2 linked regions of the Homo sapiens genome follow. Each later gene encodes a partner of the first gene's protein in a complex. Each region holds a gene or a part of one and is shown in the gene's direction. Other genes may lie near its edges. The genes, in order: LSM10 and LSM11.

What was found.
Region 2: LSM10 (region 1) and LSM11 share a complex: the UniProt entries of both Homo sapiens proteins name them as parts of the heptameric ring U7 snRNP complex.

What each region holds. Positions count from the first base shown.
Region 1 is NC_000001.11:36,392,827-36,404,420, reverse strand, and holds LSM10 (U7 snRNA-associated Sm-like protein LSm10), read left to right. Parts: upstream 1-6,512; 5' UTR 6,513-6,654; intron 6,655-10,267; 5' UTR 10,268-10,291; coding exon 10,292-10,663; 3' UTR 10,664-10,985; downstream 10,986-11,594. UniProt on the Homo sapiens protein: Appears to function in the U7 snRNP complex that is involved in histone 3'-end processing. Increases U7 snRNA levels but not histone 3'-end pre-mRNA processing activity, when overexpressed. Required for cell cycle progression from G1 to S phases.
Region 2 is NC_000005.10:157,751,105-157,762,310, forward strand, and holds the end of LSM11 (U7 snRNA-associated Sm-like protein LSm11), read left to right. Parts: intron 1-285; coding exon 286-425; intron 426-2,899; coding exon 2,900-2,983; intron 2,984-3,749; coding exon 3,750-4,160; 3' UTR 4,161-9,605; downstream 9,606-11,206. UniProt on the Homo sapiens protein: Component of the U7 snRNP complex that is involved in the histone 3'-end pre-mRNA processing. Increases U7 snRNA levels but not histone 3'-end pre-mRNA processing activity, when overexpressed. Required for cell cycle progression from G1 to S phases.

The sequences.
Region 1 (11,594 bases):
GCAGCAGTTCTCAAACTTCTTCTTGGTCTTGGAACCTCTACATACTCTTCAAAATGATTGACAGATTATGTGGGTTATATGTATTTTCTGTCATATTGGAAATTAAAATAAAAATGTAATATTAATTCATTCAGAAATTAACTCATGAACATAAATTTACATTATATATAAATATATAAACTAACATATTTTATATATAAAATATATAATAAACTCACAAATTTATATATATACATGTATAAAATATATAAACTCACCAGCATTAGTTTATATATATATAAAATGTATAAACTCACTAACATAAATTTATATATATATATATAAAATATGTTGGCCGGGCGCGGTGGCTCACGCCTGTAATCCCAGCACTTTGGGAGGCCGAGGCGGGTGGATCACGAGGTCAGAAGGTCGAGACCATCCTGATTAACACGGTGAAACCCCGTCTCTACTAAAAATTAAAAAAAAATTAGCCGGCCCTGGTGGCCGGCGCCTGCAGTCCCAGCTACTCGGGAGGCTGAGGCAGGACAATGGCGTGAACCCAGGAGGCGGAGCTTGCAGTGAGCCGAGATGGCGCCACTGCACTCCATCCAGCCTGAGCGACAGAGCGAGACTCCGTCTCAAAAAAATAAATAAATAAATAAATAAACAAATAAATAAATAAAATAAAATATGTAAACTCACTAGCATAAATTTATATATATAAATTATATAAACTCACTAACATAAACTCGCTAACATAAATTTCTATATATATAAAATATATAAACTCACTAACATAAATTTGTATATACATAATATATAAACTTACTAACAAATTTATATATATAAATTATATAAACTCACATTAACTCACTAACATAAATATGTATGTATATAAGTTACATAAACTCACTAACATAAATTTATAAACTATATAAACTCACTAACATAAATTTTATATAAAATATATTAACTTACTAACATAAATTTATATATAAAAATATAAACTCATTAACATAAATTTGTATATATAAAATATATAAACTCACTAACACATTTATATATAAAATATATAAATGCACTAACATACATTTGTATATATATAAAATATATAAACTCACTAACATACATTTGTATATACATAAAATATATAAGCTCACTAACATACATTTACATATATATATATATATATATATATATATATATATATATATATATAAAAAATATAGGCTGGGTACAGTGGCTCATGCCTGTAATCCTAGTGCTTTGGGAGGCCGAGGCAGGTGGATCACCTGAAGTCAGGAGGTCGAGACCAGCCTGGCCAACATGGTAAAACCCTGTCTCTACTAAAAATACAAAAATTAGCCAGGCATAGTGGTACGCACCTGTAATCCCTGCTACTTAGGGAGCTGAGGCAGAAGAATCACTTGAACCTGGGAGATGGAGATTGCAGTGAGCCAAGATCACACCACTGCACTAGCCTGGGCAACAGAGCAAGACTCTGTCTCAAAAAAAAAAAAAGTGTGTGTGTGTGTGTGTGTATATATATATATATAAACATAAACTCACTAACATAAGTTTAAAACTTATGTAAGTAGCAGTATTATCAACAATGAGGTTTATCTGCGGCACAATTCTCGCTCACTGAAAAATCCCAACACCCAGCCATGAAAACTTGCAATATAGTCGGCATTGGCAACTTTTGACAGTCTCTATGGAGACTGAATATTTAAAAGAAGAGAAGCAAATCCAGTCTCACATAGATAGCTGGAAAAGTGATCATACTTGCGGAAAGGCTGGCATAAGGGCCTTTTGAGAAGTTTGACTGTGGAAAGTAAGAAAACAGTAGATTGCATGGAGGAGAAAGACAATTTTATTTTTAGAATAAGAAGAGCCCAACTGTGATTGCTGATAAAAAGGGAAGCCTCCTAGGAGAGATGGAAATCAATGAATGAGAGAGTGAAGGAATGAAAGAAGCCTCTTTTTTTTGTTTGTTTTTTGTTTTTTTTTGAGACAGGGTCTTTGTCACCCAGGCTGGAGTGCACTGTGCAGTGGCACAGTCATAGCTCACTGCAGCCTCAACCTCCAGGGCTCAAGAGATCCTCCAGCCACAGCCTCCCACGTAGCTGTGATGGCAGCAGCGGCCCATCTGGAGCAGCCAGCTTCAACCACTTCATGCCAGGCAGAGGTGCAGCTGGGGCTACGTGCTCTGTGGAGCCAGCAGGGGCCAGAAACAGATGATGCCAGCAGGAGCCCCACACCCTACCAAGTTGACGGGGCATGGAGCCCTCACTCCTGGGCACAGCTGCAGCAACCCAGCCATGGCTCCAGACCCGGGCATCCCTGTGCTCTTGAGGGCCCAGAAAGCCCCTGCCCCCGCAGGCTCAGAAGTGCTTGCTCCCACTCCCTGGAGTCTCCCCACTCTTGGCGCCCACTCCAGTGCAGAGCAAAGTTGTGGCTAAGCCCGGGCACTGTTGTGACCCAGCTTGATGTGCGTGCACTGTGGGCGACACTGACACACCAACCCCCGCTGCCTCAGCACCCCCCCAGACTTTGGGTGCCAATAAGCATGTGATGGAGGCCAGGGGACTGAGGGTGGCTTGGTGCAGGCCTGCAGGCTCCCACCAGCACAGGCAATCTGGGCACCAGCAGACAGCACGTTAATAGTGCCAGGAGGCAATCAGGTTCCTAGGCAGAAGGGGCAGATGCCCAGTGAAGCCCCACCTTCAAGCCAGGGGTGGCCTGAAGCCTGGGGGTGGGGCTGCCAGTTCCAGGTGGAACCCAGGACAGGAGTAAGAACTTCATTGATGCCTTCCAGCCAATTGGATGGTACTTTTTCCAGGCCCACCCATGGCCACCCATGGGCCAACCAGCATGCACTTCCTCCATTCTTCGCACATGAAAACCCCAGACTCAGCCAGTCTCAGACACTCCACAGGACCTGCTTGCGGAAAGGAGCCACCCACTTCAGGTCTCCCGAGAGCTGTTCTATCACTCAATAAAGCTCCCTCCAGCTTGCTTACCCTCCAGTTATCCACATAACCTCATTCTTCCTGGATGCGAAACAAGAACTTGGGACCTGCCAAACAGCGGGAGTAAAAGGAGTATAACATATTCCTGGCCAGCTCGCTGAGCTGCGGGTGGTGACACACTCCCAGACTGCAGGAGTGAAGAGTGGTGACCCTTCCGGGGGCCCACCCTCCACCAGCGGGTAGCTGTGCCACATGACAGGAAGCGGTGGCTGGGCCTAGCCAGCCCAGGAACCACGGGCCAGAGCAGGGCAGCACTGAGCGGTAGGACTGAAAGAGCTGTAACACATATGGACTGAAACACGCCCCCGCCCCCCAAGATGCCCCGCCCCTGCTCCTCGTGTGGTGAAGAGCTGCAGCCCTTCTTGGGGCCCAGACCTCCGGGCTCCACAAGCCAGGGCTGTGACACACTGTAACACCCTCTTTGTGGCTCTGTGGTTCCTGGTGTCTCTGAGCTTTCGGCCACCACTGTGTTCCCCTTGTCCAGATGCTGGTGCCCACAGCAGAAGCCACTTACGGTATGTCTGGTCCAGCCGCAGCCTTGCACAGAGCCAAAGCCTGTGCCGGCGCCTGGAGCTGCCAGTGCTGGCCCTTGGAGCTGCCCACCCGCTGCAGCAGCCGGCCTATCTGGCTGTGTGCAGTGGTCGGACCCTGTGCTCACTCGCTCACACATCCCTCACTGCTCCACACCTGGCACGCCTTTGGCAGGCGTGGGATCCGAGCCCGTAGTGCAAGCTGAGCCCAGCCTGCCAGACTGAGCAGGCAGAACGAGCCCAGCAGGCACAAGCAAAAGTCAAGCACAGGCGCTGCTAGCCACAGAGGTTTCCAGATGGCAGAGTGACACCCTAAGGTTCTTGTGACAGCTGGGACTATAGGTGCACCCATTACACCCAGCTAAATTTTTTTTTTTTTTTTGAGACGGAGTCTCGCTCTGTCGCCCAGGCCGGAGTGCAGTGGCGCGATCTCAGCTCACTGCAAGCTCGGCCTCCCAGGTTCACGCCATTCTCCTGCCTCAGCCTCCCGAGTAGCTGGGACTACAGACGCCCGCCGCCACGTCCAGCTAATTTTTTGTATTTTTAGTAGAGACAGGGTTTCACCATGTTAGCCAGGATGGTCTCCATCTCCTGACCTCGTGATCCGCCCGCCTCGGCCTCCCAAAGTGCTGGGATTACAGGCGTGAGCCACCGCGCCCGGCCACACCCAGCTAATTTCTTAAAACATTTTTGGCCGGGCTCGGTGGCTCACGCCTGTAATCCCAGCACTTTGGGAGGCCGAGGTGGGCAGATCACCTGAGGTAGGGAGTTCGACACCAGCCTGACCGACATGGAGAAACCCCGTCACTACTAAAAATACAAAAATTAGCCGGGTGTGGTGGTGCACACCTGTAATCCCAGCTACTTGGGAGGCTGAGGCAGGAGAATTGCTTCAACCCGGGAGGCGGAGGTTGTAAGCCGAGATCAGGCCATTGCACTCCAGCCTGGGCAACAAGAGTGAAACTCCATCTCAAAAACAAAAAAAAATTTAGAGATGGGGTCTCACTATGTTGCCCAGGCTGGTCTCAAACTCCTGAGCTTAAACAGTCCTCTTGCCTTGGCCTCCCAAAGTGTTGGGATTACAGGTGTGAGCCACCACCCCCAGCCAAGAAGCCTAATTTACTGAGCTTCTTCTCTGTGCCAGATGCTTTCACACATTAATGAAGGTCACTTAAATCTTACAGTTCTCTGAGAAAGGCCTAATTTTTTGTTTTCATAACAAGCAAATTGAGGCTGAGGAAGAAAGTAATTTTTCCAAGGCTATACAGAGTGACTTTTAAAAAATGTAAATCAGGTGGGGCACAGTGGCGTGTGCCTGTAGTCCCAGCTATTCTTGAGGCTTGGGTAGGAGGATCACTTGAGCCCAGGTAGTTGAGGCTGCAGTGAGCTATGATCACACCACTGCACTCCAGCCTGGATGACAGGGTGAGAACCTGTCTCTACAAGTAAATCAAATCACTTCGCTCCCTTTCAATAGCCTGTCATAGCACTTCTAGTACTAGATGAGAAGACTGAGGCACAGAGAAGATACTAACTTGCCCAAAGTCACAATTAGCCAGGAGTAGATTTGAACCTAGGCACTGTATCCGGAGGCTGCACTCCTAACCATGAAATCTAAACTCCTTACCTTGGCTCACAAAGCCCTATATGCTCTGGTTCCTGCTTCCTCTCTGGCCTCTTGTTATACCACTCTCCCCAGCTTCCCTGGCCTTTCCTGTGTTCCTAAATTGTCAAGGTCATTTCCCCCAGGTTCTTTGCATGAACTGTGAAAAGAAAAAATTTAACTTTTAATTGGTGATTTGACTTTTTTTTGCCAAATTTGTTAAATCTGACTTTTATTTGCAACTCTAGAATCGGGCAACACTTCATTCTATAAAATGGAATGAGTGTTCAAATGAGCTGAGCAGAGGAGATTGGTTTTACAGCCAGAAAAGGGCTGAGGAAAGCAGAAACAGAAAACAAAAAGATTGGTTGTTTCAAAGTTACTTTCCTTGTAACTTTGAAGGCTAAAGCAGAGGGGACTTCCTTATCCTGCCAGCTAAAACAGGATGGTTTGGAGATCTAGCTATCTCTCACTCTTCTGATTTATCGGAATATCAGATAAACAACTTAGTTTCCACTTGGTGATGTAGAACTTTAGCATGAGTGACTCCATTTTGGTTCTGTTGGGCTTGGTGCAGGAGCCCTGTTCAAACCAATGGCCTCCAATTTTTTTTTTTTTTTGAGACGGAGTCTTGCTCTGTTGCCCAGGCTGGAATGAAGTGTTACTTTCTGAGCTCACTGCAGCCTCCACTTCCTGGATTCAAGCAATTCTCCTGCCTCAGCCTCCCAAGTAGGTGGGACCAGAGGTGTACGCCACCACGGTGGGCTAATTTTTTCTATTTTTTGTAGAGACAGGGTCTCCCCATTGTTGCCCAGACTGGTCTCGAACTCCTGGGCTCCAGTGATCCTTCCGCCTTGTCCTCCAAAGTGCTGGGATTACAGGTGTGGGCCTCTGCACCCGGCCCTGCCTCCTATAAATTTTACTTAACAAACTGTTCCCGCTAATTGCAATGCTCCTCCCATAGTTTTCACAAGCTTGGCTTCATGTCACTAATCTCAACTCAAATGTCACCTTCTCAGGGCACCCCTGACAATCCAATAAAAGACCACCTTGTCACCATCACATCACACCTTTAATCTTCTGAAGAAATTTTTCCCTATTTTTCTTCTTTGTTTTCTTAAGACTCTCTCCCCTGCAGCGCCATCAGCTCAGGGAGCCACTTGATCTTGGTCACTGCTCCATGCCGGAGCCTGGGAAGGAGCCTGGCCCAGGTCGCCGGTTCAATGAATGCGTGCGGAATGAATGAACGACTCTAGTGAAAGAGACTCCAATGACGCAGGCCGGGATTTGCGGAGCACGAGCCCCGCGCCGCGAAGCATTCTGGGGATTGTAGTTTCTCCGTGACGCGGTGACTTGCAGAGCACTGACGCACTCTGCGCCCGGAGGACAGAGCGGCCCGGTCGCCGGCATGGTTTCTCCGTCCTGCTGCAGCCGGCGGGAGGCAGCCAGTCCAGGCGCCCGCTAGCTTCGGCGGCGACCCAGACGGGGAAAGCGGAAGGAATGTCGCGTGGTGGGTCCGGGTCGGCGGTGCAGGGAGCCCCGGGGCGGAATGCGGGGGATGCCAGGACCTCCGGAAGGAGGTGCCGGAGCCCAGGAAGCGTTTTCTTCCCCATTTACCGAGTATAGCTCCTTTCCCCAGACCCGCTCCCGCTGCTCTGAGTAAGCGGTGCTCATCCCGTTTTACCGGTAGCTTAGCTAGCTTGGAGAAGCTAAGTGGTTTGCTAAGTGATCGCCCTCCTAGGAGGTGGCAAAGCCTGTTCTAGAACCCGGGCCTGACTCGAGGTCCGGTGACTGCTCTTTGCAGTCGCAGCAGCAGCCCCATACCTTTGCTTGATCGCAGATTCATCAGGCTGCAGCCGGGTGGCTGGTCGTTAGGCCATGCCCAGGGACCTAGCTCCCAGGCCCCCTCGTCACTGGCCTAGTCTGGCTTGCCACGCTCAGTGCCACAATGCACAGCCCTGGACGGGATGCTGAGTGAGGTCGTAAAGAGAGAGCGTTCCACCCCCTTTAACTCAGGTCTGAAAATAAGGGATAGGTAAGACATAGTGCACTAATACATTATCAGGGCATGTTGAAATCAAAGGAGAGTACCTTTAGTGGAGTGTGATTCTGGTAGCTTTGTTTCTCCTGTAGTTTAATAAATGTGGAAACAGGTTCAGAGACATTAACTTTTCTAGGTTTTCATAATTAGGGGTGGAGTGGGGATTCCAACCTAGGTTTCTCTACCTTCAAAACCTATGTACCTTATATAATACCGGTTGGGGGTTTTTTTCCCCAATTCATTATCCAGATTTATTTTCTTTTTTTTTTTCTGAGAGTCTCGCTGTGTCACCCAGGCTGGTGTGCAGTGGCACAATCTTGGCTCACTGTAACCTCTGCCTCCTGGGTTCAAGCGATTCTCCTGCTTCAGCCTCCCAAGTAGCTGAGATTACAGGTGCGCCCATGCCCAGGTAATTTTTGTATTTTTGGTAGATACTGGGTTTCACCATGTTGGCCAGGCGGGTCTTGAACTCCTGACCTCAGGTGATCCACTCGCCTTGGCCTCCCAAAATCCTGGGATTACAGGCGTGAGCCCTTGCACCCGGCCTCATTACCTTAATTTCTACTTACATAACAGCTGCATGGTGTAGACCAATAGTTCCCAGAGTGTGGGCCCCTGACCAGCAGCATCAGCATCACCTGGGAACATGTTCAAAATGACTTTATCTCTGGGCCTCACCTCAGACCTGAGTCAAACTGGGAGTGGGGCCCAGCAAGCTGAGTTAACAAGCCCCTCAGATGATTCTGATACACACTAATGTTTGAGAACTACTGGTGTCAACCAATGATTCTCAAACCTTAACGTGTATCTAATTCACGTAGGGGGTCATGTTAAAATGCAGTCTGTTTCCAGCCAGCGTGGAAGATGGCAGTGAGCCACTCAGTGAAGGAGTGGATTTTATCTCAGAACAGGCTTGGGGAGAGACCTGAGATTGCGCATTTCTAACCAGTACCCCTCAGCACTTTGGAGTTATCTGGGGAGCTTTCTTTTTTTTTTTTTTTTTTTTTTTTTTGAGATGGAGTCACTCTGCTGCCCAGGCTGGAGTGCAGTGGCACTCCACTTGCAGCTCACTGCAAGCTCTGTCTCCCAGGTTCACGCCATTCTCCTGCCTCAGCCCCCCGAGTAGCTGGGACTACAGGCGCCCGCCACCACGCCTGGCTAATTTTTTTGTATTTTTAGTAGAGATGGGGGTTTCACCATGTTAGCCAGGATGGTCTTGATCTCCTGACCTCATGATCCGCCCGCCTCGGTCTCCCAAAGTGCTGGGATTACAGGCGTGAGCCACCGCGCCCAGCCGGGAGCTTTTACAAAATAGGATACCTGGGCCCACCCCTCTAACCAAACGAATCAGAATCTCTGGGGTGGGGAGGTTGGGTTAAAAACTCACCAGATGATTCTAATGCACACCTGGTGTGAGGTTTGGAGCCAGACGGCTATGGATTTTCTTTTTTTTTTTTTTTGAGACAGAGTCTCTCTGTTACCCAGGCTGGAGTGCAGTGGCGTGATCTTGGCTCACTGCAGCCTCCACCTCCCGGATTCAAGCGATTCTCCTGCCTCAACCTCCGGAGCAGCTGTGATTATAGGTGCTCACCACCATGCCCGACTAATTTTTGTATTTTTAGTAGAGATGGGGTTTCACCATATTGGCCAGGCTGGTCTTGAATTCCTAGCCCCAGTGATCCACCCACCTTGGCCTCCCAAAGTGCTGGGATTACAGCGGGGAGCCACCACGCCCGGCCTGTGGCTACGGATTTGAATTCCAGCAATTCCACTTATTTACTGTGACCTTGGGCAAGTTACCTCTCCTAGCCATATTTTTCTTTTTTTAAAGTTATTGATTTTTTAAAATTAATGTATTATTAGGAATGATACAGACTTTTGTTGTTAGTCCTAATAATTTGTCTTGCATTCTCAATGTAGATAATCATATAATTTATAATTGACCAACAAGGACAGTGATCTTCCTTTATAATTATTGTTTCTCTAAATTCTTTCCCTTCTTTCCGTAATCGTTTTTTGAACATTGCATTGACCATTACCTACATTTTACTGTTGATTAGAAGCCATAAAAGGCATCCTTTTCTTGTCTCTGACCCAATAGAAATGCTCACCATTTTCTTTATTTTTTGAGACAGAGTCTTGCTCTTGTTGCCCAGGCTGGAGTGCAATGGCGCAATCTTGGCTCATTGCAACCTCTGCCTCCTGGGTTCAAGCAATTCTCCTGCCTCACCCTCCCGAGTAGCTGAGATTACAGGCATGTGCCACCACGCTTGGCTAATTTTTTGTATTTTTAGTAGAAACAGGGTTTCACCGTGTTAGCCAGGCTGGTCTCGAACTCCTGACCTCAGGTGATCCACCCGCCTCAGTCTCCCAAAGTGCTGGGATTGTAGTCGTGAGCCACCGCGCCCGGCCAATGCTCACCGTTTTCTTATAGGTTTTTCTTTTTTTTGAGACGGAGTCACTCTGCCGCGATCTTGGCTTACTGCAAGCTCCGCCTCTTAGGTTCACGCTATTCTCCTGCCTCAGCCTCCCGAGTAGCTGGGACTACAGGCGCCCGCTGTCACCACACTCGGCTAATTTTTTTTGCATTTTTAGTAGAGACGGGGTTTCACCATGTTAGCCAGGATGGTCTCAATCTCCTGACCTCGTGATCTGCCTGCCTCAGCCTCTCGAAGTGCTGGGATTACAGGCGTGAGCCACCATGCCCAGCCTTCTTGTAGGTTTTTTTAAAAAATCAGAGTTGGGGTCTTGCTATGTTGCCCAAGCAGGTCAGCAGAGCTCTTGGGCTCAAGTGAAGCTCCTACCTCAGTCTCCTGAGTAGCTAGTACCACAGGTGTATCCCACCGCGCCTGGCCATCCTAGCCATATTTTTCTCATTCATAAAATGAGCATAAGTAATCCTTGGCTTGCAAGTTGGTGTGAGGATTCTATGAGACATGTGCGGGAAGCATCTGTGTCCACAGATACAAAAATTGCAGAGGTGGTCTGTGCTGGGAATTTTGTTTGAGAACCTGGTGGAGGTGAGTTGGCAACTGTACCCCCTACCCTGCTATAGCTGCCATCTGTGTGCTCCTGTCCACAGCAAGCAGGCAGCTGGTGTGGAAGAATGGCGGTGAGCCATTCAGTGAAGGAGCGGACCATCTCTGAGAACAGCCTGATCATCCTACTGCAGGGCCTCCAGGGCCGGGTAACCACTGTGGACCTGCGGGATGAGAGCGTGGCCCACGGACGCATAGACAATGTCGATGCTTTCATGAACATCCGCCTGGCCAAAGTCACCTACACGGACCGTTGGGGGCATCAGGTCAAGCTGGATGACCTCTTTGTGACAGGCCGCAATGTCCGCTACGTCCACATCCCAGATGACGTGAACATCACCTCGACCATTGAGCAGCAGCTGCAGATTATCCATCGGGTGCGAAACTTTGGTGGCAAGGGCCAAGGCCGGTGGGAATTTCCCCCAAAAAACTGTAAGTGAGGCCCTCAGCAAGCCCTGGCCCCAACTCGGAGTCCTCCAGTGATCTCCGGAGCTAGTTCCCTGCCCTCACACCCTGTCTGGTACCCGAGAAGAAAGCAGGGCCAGGCCAGAAGCTGGTGTCCAACAGACACCACCTGTCAAAGCTGCCTTTCACAGGGTTCCACCTCCCAGACTCACTCTGGGACCCAGAATCCTATATGTGGCCTTGGGGTAGGTGACAATCCCCCTTTTTGATGATCTGAATCTCTGACTTATTGATTATGGAACCTGTCAAGTAGTTTTCAACTCTCCCAGTGAGGATAATTAAACATGCTCAGCCTGAGCCACCTCTAAGTGTCTCCATTTCTCATGCAGTTGTGTTCATTTTCTCATGAAACCCAACTTGGATACAAACAGGTCCGTGCCCCAGGCTTTCCCTTCTGTGTGCTGCGCTCCCAGGCCGTCCTGTGTAGTCGGGGGCAGACTCAAGCTTGGCTGCACGTTGGAATCACCTGTCCCACCCTCACAGATTCATATTTCATTGGTATGGGGTATGGTCTGAGGGCTATGAGTTTTTTTAATTTCCCAGGCAATTCTAATATGTAGCAGTTTTAGAATGGTAGGAGAGTACTTCAGTCTGGTCAGGTGGAAAATGGCTTTTCTATTCAGAGTCCTTGTTGAAGAGGCTGTTAGTCTTGTTGCTGTTTCCTGAAGCAGAGAGGTTGCAGTATCCTGGGCCCTCCTCCCCTGGGGTGTGGGAGCTCGGCACACACATTCCTGCACCTGTGGGAGCAGGAATTCCATCTCTAATCTGAGAGTTATTGGGTTCTCAGGGTTAGAACCCACGTCCTTGTAGTAGCTGCCTTGTTGTCATTCTAGGCCTGCCACAGGCAAACAACCGTCTTAGTGAAAGTGGCTCACTTGAGGTCAGGAGTTCGAGACCAGCCTGGCC
Region 2 (11,206 bases), on another chromosome or scaffold:
GCATGTTAAAATCAGTGACATCGTGGAATAAGAGATATACCGGTAGTGAAACATTTGGCTGATATTCATACATATGGATGATCCACATTCTGTTGGAATCTAGTCTTGTGTCAGTGTGTGTTGGCCGTACGAGCCATGTTGCCCATTGGACCTTCCTGTTCCAATAGTGAGATTGTCACTCTACCATGGGCCACATGTTGCTGGCCGAAGTTGGGTGGTCGTGGCTTAATTCTGGGAATGAGGGCAGATATTAAAACTGTCCTGACTGTTCTTCTCTTGTTTCAGTGCACGAAGGCAGCCCTCTGGGTGAACTCCATCGCTGTATCCGTGAGGGGGTGAAGGTGAATGTTCACATCCGCACTTTCAAGGGACTTCGGGGCGTCTGTACAGGCTTCCTTGTTGCATTCGACAAGTTCTGGAATATGGTAATTAAGCCTTTCTCAAGGGGCTGGAGAACCTCCTACAGATTATATCTTCTATAATATTTAAAGGACCTGAGTAACTGCATTAAGTAAAACCCAAAAAATAACTTCTTAGAAGAACTAGAATTTTTGCATACTTTTGGGCAACAACAAGAAAAGGTCTTTTTATTGCTTCCTTCTCCTTAAGGCAGTGGCTCTTAACCAAGGTAATTTTGTTCTTCCTTCACTCCCAGGAACATTCATCAATGTCTGGGGACATTTTATTGTCACCACTATAGGAGAGGGTACTACTGGCATCTAATTGGTAGAGGCCAGGGTTGCAGCTAAACAGTCTACAACACACAAGATAGTCCCTCAACAACAAAGAATTATCCAATCTGAAAAGTCCTTAGTGCCAGGGTTGAGAAACCCAGCCTTAAGGACCAATTATTTTATCGGTTTAGTAATTTTTAGTTGATTTTCTACCAACCATTCTTTCATTAATTAAGAAAAACATTTATTGACTTCCCATTTTGGCTGAACCCCATGCTAGGTGCAAAAGTTTCAGAAAGGAACTTGCACTTTACAGTACATGGGAAGGTAAATAAGGATAGAGGTGAAGCAGACATCAGTAAACAAAGCATTTTGCATGATGTCTTTTTTTTTTTTTTTTGAGACAGTGTTTTGCTCTTGTCACCCAGGCTGGAGTGCAGTGGCACAATCTCAGCTCACTGCAACCTCCGCCTCCTGAGTAGCTGGGATTACAGGCCCCTGCCACCATGCCCAGCTGATTTTTGTATTTTTAGTAGAGACAGGGTTTCACCATGTTGGCCAGGCTGGTCTTGAACTCCAGACCTCAGGTAATCCGCCTGCCTCAGCCTCCCAAAGTGCTGGGATTACAGGCATGAGCCACTGCGCCCGGCCACATGGTGGTTTTATAATGAGGGAGTGTGCCACACTTCCTAGCCTTCTAGAGGCTTACTTTTTTTCTAGACATTTGTAGGAGAGAAGGGATATGTAATAGCACAACTATAATTTGAGGTAGTTAAGAACTACTAGGCTGCACGCGGTGGTTCACACCTGTAATCCCAGCACTTTGGAAGGCCGAGGCAGGCGGATCGCCTGAGGCCAGGAGTTCAAGACCAGCCTGGCCAACATAGGGAAACCCCCATCTCTACTAAAAATACAAAATTAGCCAGACATGGTGGCACAAGCTTGTAATCCCAGCTACTCAGGAGGCTGAGGGAGGAGAATCACTTGAAGCTGGGAGGCGGAGGTTGCAGTGAGCCGAGATCATGCCACTGCACTCCAGCCTGGGTGGCAGAGCGAGACTCTGTCAAAAAAAAAAAAAAAAAAAAAAGAACCACCAGAGCTTTCTGGTGTTTCTTTTCCATATGGTCTTCTATCTCCAACTTTCCTTTTCCCTGTGCTTTATCCCCATCCACGCATCCTCCTGGATAAGAACAGTAGCTGCTAACATATATTGAGTACCTGCTATGTGCCAGGTACTATACTGAGGGCTTCATATATTATCTCAATGAATGAGTTGTGGGTACTATTACTGTTCCATTTCACAAATGAAGAAATTGATTCTAGAGAGATTGGAATGTTGGTCGCAGATCACACTGTTAGTAAGTGGAAGTGCCAAACTTTTTCCTCGGCCTAACTCCTAAAACCATGTTTTTAACCATTAGGGAATTTGAATCCTAGCATCATCACTTGGTAACTGTGTGACTGTAAGCAAGATAATTTCTCTGAGCCTCAGTTTTCTCATTTCCAAAATGCAGGGAAAAATGTTTTATTATGATCTTTTTACCTTTGAAGAATTGAAGAGAATGTGTTAGATGATAGTGGTGATTATAACAGTACTGTCAGCTTCTATTTGTAGGGTGATTTACACTTTTCAAAGGAATTTGTCTTGTACTTCTCATTTGGTCCTAACAGCTGTCCTGTCGAGGTTGCTCTCGGTGATGAGAACTCACCAGCAATTCTGTGTGTAACCCTGGTTAATCTCTGTTAATTGCTTTCATAAGACATAGAAACTGAAGCGGGTAAAGAAGCAGTAATGTTCCTCAAAGTGGGATCTAAAGCCATCCTGCATCAGAATCACCTGGGGCTTCTGGTTGAAACAAAAGGTTCCTGGGCTTCATCCCAGACCTACCAAAACAGAATCTCCAGCAGAATAGCTTTGGGTTCGTATTTTAATAAACCTCCTAGATATTCTTGCACACTGAAATTTAAGACCTTCTACCATGCAGTCATAAAGGCCCTTACCATCCATAGGTGAAACCCATCTTATATGGTGATAGCAGCTTAAAAATATTACACAGAAGGTACCAGGTGTCACCATTTTCTTCTGCCTAGGAGCTGAGTCATCTGTTAAGTGTAGTTCTGCTCTGAATAGATGTTACTCTGCCTTTTTTTTTTTCCCTGAAAAAGCTATACAAATAATAATTTTAATTCTGTCTAATGTTTTTCCTTTTGGGCTGTTCCTCTAGGCACTTACTGATGTGGATGAGACCTACCGAAAACCTGTCCTAGGCAAAGCATATGAACGGGATTCTTCACTGACTCTCACTAGGGTAGGCAGTTTTCCCCTGACCTCCTGAGTAGCCATCATGCTTTCCAGCTTAGGAATTAAGATCCCTGAGCCCAGTGACTAGGATTTCCTAGAGGGAAATCTCTGTTGCTATAAACCAGCTGTGCCTGTACCAAGGTATTCCTTAGTTCCTCTTTTCATGCTTCCAGTGAATCTCAAGTGAGTCTGTGCTTGTAACCTGCATATTATTTGAGGAGCAAGTTGTCTCTTACAACACCTGAAAGTCTTTCAGCTTTATACCACAGAAATAAGCCTTTTCTCTTGACATATGTATTATGTGCATTATAGTTAGAAATAGGAAATTTATGGCCAGGCGTGGTGGCTCATGCCTGTAATCCCAGCACTTTGGGAGGCCGAGGCGGGTGAATCATGAGGTCAGGAGATCGAGACCATCCTGGCTAACACGGTGAAACCCCATCTCTACTAAAAATACAAAAATTAGTTGGGCAGGGTGGCAGGCGCCTGTAGTCCTAGCTACTTGGGAGGCTGAGGCAGGAGAATTGCTTGAACCTGGGAGGTGGAGGTCGCAGTGAGCTGAGATCGCACCACTGCACTCTAGCCTGGGCGACAGAGTGAGACTCCGTCTCCAAAAAAAAAAAAAAAAAAAAAGATTTATTACTAACTTTTAAAAAATTGCAAAGCAAGGAGTCCACAGAACATAATTAAAGAATTTGGTCTTTTTCTGTATGTTGAAAGAGGGTGATGAAGGCTAAAGAGAAGGCTAATATTTATCATTGTTTGCTTTATAGCTATTTGATCGGCTGAAACTTCAAGATTCCTCCAAGAAGGAAGCAGATTCTAAGTCTGCAGTTGAAGATTCCACTCTGTCTAGATACTCACAGACATCCACTTGGAAGTTGGCTTCAGTGTGGGGAAGAGCAGACACTGGCCGGGGCTCACACAAGCGTTCCCGCTCTGTCCCTTCTTCCCTGCAGGCCTCTGCAAGGGAGGAGTCCAGGTCAGAGCTGTCAGGGAGGACTACACGGACAGACGGCTCCAGTGTGGGAGGTACCTTTTCCAGGGCTACCACCCTTTCCAGAGGCCAGTCCCGTAAGAAAAAGCGAAAGCCCAAAGTGGATTACCAGCAGGTATTCACTCGACACATAAATCAGATTTTCATTCGAGGCGAGAATGTCCTGCTGGTTCATCTTGCACAGTGACCAGCTCAGCCTGAGCTTTGGTTTTTAGAAATAAAGTGCATGAATTGCTGCTATGCTGTATCCTAGTATCCCAGTGAAACTCTGAGTTGGAATGATTCCCTCTGGTCCTGCATATGCAGAGGACGGAGCAGGCTCAGCCCCCTGGAAGATGAGCTCAAGGGGAGGACAGGCCTTGGGAGGGCAGGCGTTTGCATTAATATCAAGGCAAAAAGCATTCATAGATACATGCATCTGATTTGGTATTGTGATTTACTTCAGACCCTGAAACCAAATATCTGATCTTCCATTAGACTTAGGGGTCATGATATGAGTGGAATTTACATTTTAGATACTATAGGGGAAAGAAAAGTCTCAAAAAGAAGTATTGCATGTCTAAAAGCTAGTGCCCTGAGTACTCATGAATTCGATTCCAAGAGTAGTGGTGTAAATTGCCTTGGAGCCCTGCATCCACGTCTTGTAACTAACTTTTGAATTTTGCCTGACATGATTCTCTCTTGATGAAGAAATGACATATATTATCTTTGAATATCTACAAGGAAAGTTACCAACTTATGTAGGGGTGAAATTTGGATAGGCGGTATGCTCAAAGCAGCCAGCAATGAGTGCTCTGTTTTGATCCTTCTTCTTATTATGGAAAGGAGTACAGGACCTCTTCAGTCTTCCCCTTACCAGAGGTAGCCTCTGCAAATGGCATACCAGATGGGACTCTAAGATGCTTGTGTGGTGGCTTCTTGTCCTTCTCTTTGACTTCTGTGGCATGGTGCTAGTGCATGTACCCTGTGGTATTGCCCCTCTGTCCGTAGTGTGAACTGTCCTGTGAGCTTTATGTCAGGAGACTGTGACCTTCATGTCCAGCTTCAAAGAGTTGTGCATGAACTCGGTAATACACATCACACGGCTGAGAGTCCCCTTTCCAGGCAGGGCCAGCATGTGTAGAATATCTTTCAGAATATGGTTTCACCATGAAACAGGGGTGGTAGATTTATTCCCTTGTGTCAGGCCAAAGAAGTTCTTACAAAGTACAGTGGGTAGTGTCTAAAGCGACACTTTACTCACAGCCTGGCTTGAGTCAACAGGAACACCATAGCACCCACAAATACTTCTACTTGAATCATATTCTGTGCTTTTTCAATCACTAGTGCAGAATAGGCTGCATTTGACACAGACTGTTAGGCAATATTGATTTTTTTGTTTTGTTTTTATTTGGTTTTATCTGAGATAACTTATGTTCAAGGTGAGAATAAGAAATAGCCAACTAGTTAAAATGTATGAAAAGAAAACTTTCCCCTGCTGTATTTGTTGTGTAACATAAATAAGCCTTCTGAGAAGCAGGGTGAATAAAGTTTAGGGAGCTGGGACACCTGGTCCTGCTAGCTGGACCACTGGCTCATCATGCAATGAAAAGGTGAGCAGACTTAACCCCTCCGTGCCTCAGCTTTTTCCCCACAGACACCTACCTCACAGGGGCATTGAGAAAAAAAAAATGAAGGCATTTTACAGTCTCTAAACATCTTTAAGTGCCATGAGTAATTTTTCCTGACTCTGTTTCATAGCTTTGTAAGAATTCTGTGTCTTTATAAGACACAGAAGCAAGGCAGGTGCTACATAAAAAAGTAATCTCAGCCAGGCACGGTGGCTCACGCCTGTAATCCCAGCACTTTGGGAGGCTGAGGCGGGTGGATCACAAGGTCAGGAGATCAAGACCATCCTGGCTAACACGGTGAAACCCTGTCTCTACTAAAAATACAAAAATTAGCCGGGCGTGGTGGCGGGCGCCTGTAGTCCCAGCTACGTGGGTGGCTGAGGCAGGAGAATGGGGTGAACCCGGGAGGCGGAGCTTGCAGTGAGCCAAGATTGCACCACTGTACTCCAGCCTGGGCGACAGAGCAAGACTCTGTCTCAAAAAAAGGAAAAAAAAAAAAAGTAATCTTAGGGTTCATAGTTATGATCCTGTTGTAACTATCTTCGGAAGGCAGCAGTATCTTCTGGAACTTCCATATTCCATTCCTTCCTCCTAAGGGACAATGGAAGTTCTCAGAAGAGTATCTTCAGTAAGAGGAGAGTAACTTTTTTTTTGCTGCTCCCGCTATATCCCAGGCCTCACCCTTTTCTGATCATTATCAGAAAGAATCCCCTGAACTTTTCAAGGGGTTTATATGGTAGCACCAAATGGAGAATGAGCATCTAAAAATGACACATCCCGAAAGGGCAATCTGTGGAAGTTTGTTGTTTGTTTGTTTTTATTTTTAAATGCATTGTAAAGTGTACTCTAGAGCCAGATCAGGTGCACTAAAGTTTATAGAGGTTCCAGTTTACAAACTCAAGTGAACAGTAATCTTTGGAAGCTGCCAGTCTAAATTCTAAATAGTGTATCTGAAATCTCAGTTCCCAAAATAGTTGTCAGGTTTAATCATCAGGCAACACTGCGTATACCTGTGTGGCTATCCTCATCTGCCTGCCCTCTCATCCCTCGGCTAGAATGATGTACTCTACTTTCCCAATAAGGTAGAAATTTGGAATCCAACGGAATATAATCAGTTTTCATTCATTCCAGTGCCTAGTTAAATCTAACCTGACTTAAACATATGCCTGTTTTTATGTTTACCTATAATTTTCATATAGCCGTATAAGGATTGATTTACCATTTTTTGCCCAACATGACAATTCTGGCTATGAAAATTATGTTTAAACTGTGTATGATCTATTTTATGTGCTCTATGTTCCCATTTGTTTGTTTGGTCTGGACAGTGGTTCTGGAATGAATTCTATCTAGTAAATTAGTAAATGTGCTGTTTTGTATAAAGCATGATAATTACTTTTTAACAGAAGTTCATTTTTAAAGATTACTCCCTTTTCTTTCTCTCTTTTTTTTGAGACAATTTCTCTCTTGTTGCCTAGGCAGTGCAGTGGCGCGATCTCAGCTCCCTGCAACTTCTGCCTCCCAGGTTCAAGCGATTCTCCTGCCTTAGCCTCCTGAGTAGCTGGGTCAGCCACCATGGCTGACTCATTTTTTGTATTTTTAGTAGAGAAGGGGTTTTACCGTGTTAGCCAGGCTGGTCTTGAACTCCTGACCTTGGGTGATCCACCTGCCTCAGCCTCCCAAAGTGCTGGGATTACAGGCGTGAGCTATCCCGCCCGGTCCCCTTTTCTTTATTATCGAAGATATTGTTTAAAAGAAAGAAAAAGTAGGTCCCAATAATATATGTGCTATTCAAAAAATGTGATCATTTAGGACATTATCACAAGTTGCTATGGAAATAACTGAAGACTTCCTCAGGAGAAGGAAAGAAAATGAGGAACATAATGATAGAGTCGGGGAACTCCCACTAGCTCACCTGAGGGGGGCTCGATGCAGCTGAAATACTGAATACTGAAATACTAGAAACCAACAAAACTGGTTTCTAGAATTCTCCAGGGATTTGGGCTTGGGAAACTTGGTAAGAATAGTTTTTATTTTTGAACATTCAACTTTGGTTCTTCAAAGTAATCTTTAAACATGGGAATATGTTTTCAAGACAATTTATAGGACATACTTATGTAGTTGGTGAGGTCTTCTCAAAAGTATCTACCTTTGTTAGATAATAACAAGTGATTAAGAAAGGGGAGATATGGTTTTATACTCATAACAATTTCCTGTGCCATTCTCTGTACACAGAGGTGATTCATTTACTCTCCCATTAGTAGAACTTGCACTTTGGGCTGTCTGTTCTAGTATTTGGGAAGTGTTTATGCTTCCTTCCAGGGACCATCTTATGATCAGAGGCAGGATGTCTGTGAGATGGTTAGCTAGAGTTAGCAGTGTCCGGGGAGAGTGGCTTTAGACCAGTCAGTACCTTGCTCTTTGTGCATGGTGCATGTCAAGTCAGGAAGCCAAGAAACCGTTGGCATTAAAATCTAGATGCATAGAGATCCTTGCTATGAGTTGTGGATAGGAGTGGCTCCATCTATCCTTGTGGTGAAAGAGTCCAGGAGCTCCTTTAGAGATTGTCAAGTCCTGAGCGATGAGCTGCCCTTAATCCTCAGAAGCCTTACAAAAATTGAGATGTACCATTTCTACCCTTTGAGAAAAAAGAAATAGAAACTTACTTGATGCAGAATGGATATTTATATTTCTGCTTGCACCATTTCCATAGCAGCTGACAAAGGCAAAATCATGAAATAGAATCATTTCTATAAATTGCTTCTTTAAGTTTTCTCTAAATTTTGCCTCTAGGAAAAAATTAAAACTATTCAATGACAGCTAGCTGTCACTGGTGCTACCCCAAAGCTTTCCAATCTTTTATGTATTTTTTGTGAATGAAACTGTTGCTGTAGGAAAGTCAAGGTTCATGTAAGAGTATCGTGGTGTAAATATAATGGTTTCACAGCTGTTTGAATTTTTCTTTTCCTGTGCCAGATATAGAATGCAGTCAACCCTTTTTCAGTAACTTATGTTCACCAGTCTGTGCTTTTCTTCTCCCAGAAGGCTTTTCTTAGTGGTTGTAAATGCAAGAATCCTGAGCCCTGTGTTGCAAAGGTGGGTGGTCTGTCAGCACTTTCTGGCAAATTGAGTTGATGGATTTAAGATAAGCCTTTGGGGTTCCTGTCAGTTTTCTGGGCCCTGAGGAAGGGTTGGGCCTCCTTTACTCTCAGTATTTTGAGTGTTTTTCAAATGTTTGTACGTTATCTTGCACTGCTCTAATAAAAATGAAAGCTCTCTGACAAGAAATAGTTCTGGATGGTTTGAAGATCTGCGGGGAAAAATAAGTGTGCACCTGAGACCTTCAGTTAGTCTTTTATTTATTTAGAATAAAAAATAGTTTGATAACCTACCAGAGTTAGTGCTTCTTTAAAAACACTCCTTGGAAAGATGGGGACTGTCCCTTAGGAAAGCCATAAAAGTGATTCCCAATACTTTGCAATTGCTTTTGATTTTTAGTCCTTTGGAACAAATGTGTGATGTTATGTCTGATGTTGTGTTTTTAGAGCTGTGAAAAGTCTGAAAAATTTCAAGGGGTATTATTTAAATGATGATTATCTGGCTGAATTATGTGTGAGCTAGAATCTAGGGTAGCTGTCCACTTCTTTTTCTGTTGTCCTGACAGTAAAGCAAATAGTAAGCCATGTCTTGAAAGTGATTTGCTTGTTTCATACTGACATCTAAAGACATCAGCCTTCTCTTTGGCAACCCTGGGGATACTCCTCTGCACCATAACTTATTAATGTTTTTTTAGACAAGGCTAAACCTGAATGACTCTACGTATCTATAGTTTCACTGCTCATATACCAGCTGCTACAAGAAAAACCATGACTTGTAAGTTTGTCTTTACTCCTAATTGCTAAATTAACTGAAACCCTTCCTGTCTAGGGAGAATTGCTGCTAGTAAGGTCAGTTTGCAATGTTCAGCTTTAGATATGTGTCGTAATGGGAGTCTGAAAACTGTAATAAACTGTATTCATATCCTGGCTGCTTTGTCTCTGTTGATTTAGGGGGGTGGGAGAGAGGAGGCAGGGGAGTCTGTTACCAAGTGAAGACACCTGTCTAGAAAGTTAGACCATCTCAAGCCTTCTGCATTTACATTATTGTAACCTTGTACCTTTTCTTTACCAAAGTCCACACATCTAAGTCACCACTCTTGCCGGGCGCAGTGGATCACGCCTATAATCGTGGCACTTTGGGAGTCCGAGGCGGGTGGATCACCTGAGATTGGGAGTTCGAGAACAGCCTGGCCAACATGGTGAAACCCTGTCTCTACTAAAAATACAAAAATTAGCCAGGTGTGGTGGCGGGCACCTGTAATCCCAGCTGCTCGGTAGGCCGAGGCAGGAGAATCACCTGAACCCGGGAGGCAGAGGCTGCAGTGAGCTGAGATCATGCCACTGCACCCCAGGTTGGGCCACAGAGCAACACTCAGTCTAAAAAAAGGAAACAAAAATAGCTGGGCATGGTGGCAGGCACCTGTAGTCCCAGCTACTCGGGAGGCTGAGGCAGGAGAATCACTTGAACCCAGGAGGCGAAGGTTGCAGTGAGCTGAGATTGCACCACTGCACTCCAGCCTGGGCGATAGAGCGAGGCTCCATCTCAAAAAATAAAAATAAGTAAAATAAAAATAAAACACCACTCTTGAGGTGGCTTTTTTCTTCCAAGTTTACTTGAAGTTCATGCTTAGGAAAGGAACTTGGCCCACATTCTGAATTATCTCCTCTAAGCTGCAAGCAGTGGTAATTGCCCTGTGAATTTATTCTACCTAATAGCTCACTGGCACTAGTCCATTCTGTTCATGATCTGCTGAAATCACCATTCATTCTGCTCCCTCTGAGTGTTTTACCACATTTGGCAAATCAATCTTCACATTCTTCCAAAAATATTTAAATTTTCTACCAGCTTTCCACTGTGCATGTACAGGAAGTTTAGCTGTCCCAGATTTGCCACATTGATTACTTGGATCTCTTCTGTGTGCTTCCAGAACTGAATCACCTGGTAAGGTAGACAAGAAAAGTCACATTTATTCTTAGAGGGGGAAACCTGAAGTTAACTGTCAAGACCCAGTTTCTCACTTTAAAGGATCCATTAACTTGAGCCCAGCTGACACACACCAAGTTGCTAACTGCTGCAGTAGAAAGGGAGGCAAGACCCGTGTGCTGTATGTCTGGTCCTTGCCTGTTTGTTTTGAATCTCAGATACTTCTGATTAAATGAGAATGTCCTAATTAATCAAAGTAATGGCAAAAGAGTCAGCTAGCTTGACACTGTAAATGTACAGTGACAGTTAAATGTTGGCAGGGAGTGGAGGCCAGTGGAAAGAGACACATCGATCACTCTCCCTGTGCTTCCAAGATAGGAGTGGCAAGCAGAAAAAAATGCCAACCGTTCTCTCCTTGGTTATAGATGAAGAGTTTTTCAGTCTGCTCAGTTACCACTAGGTGGCAGTGGGTTAAAGAAAACTGCTTACCTAGAGGTCCCAGAAGGACCGGAGTCTCTAGTCTCCAGTCACTGCTACAATTTATCGTTAAATGCTCACCAGTCAGGACTGAGTTAATTAAGGAAAAACAAGCTATAATCAACCC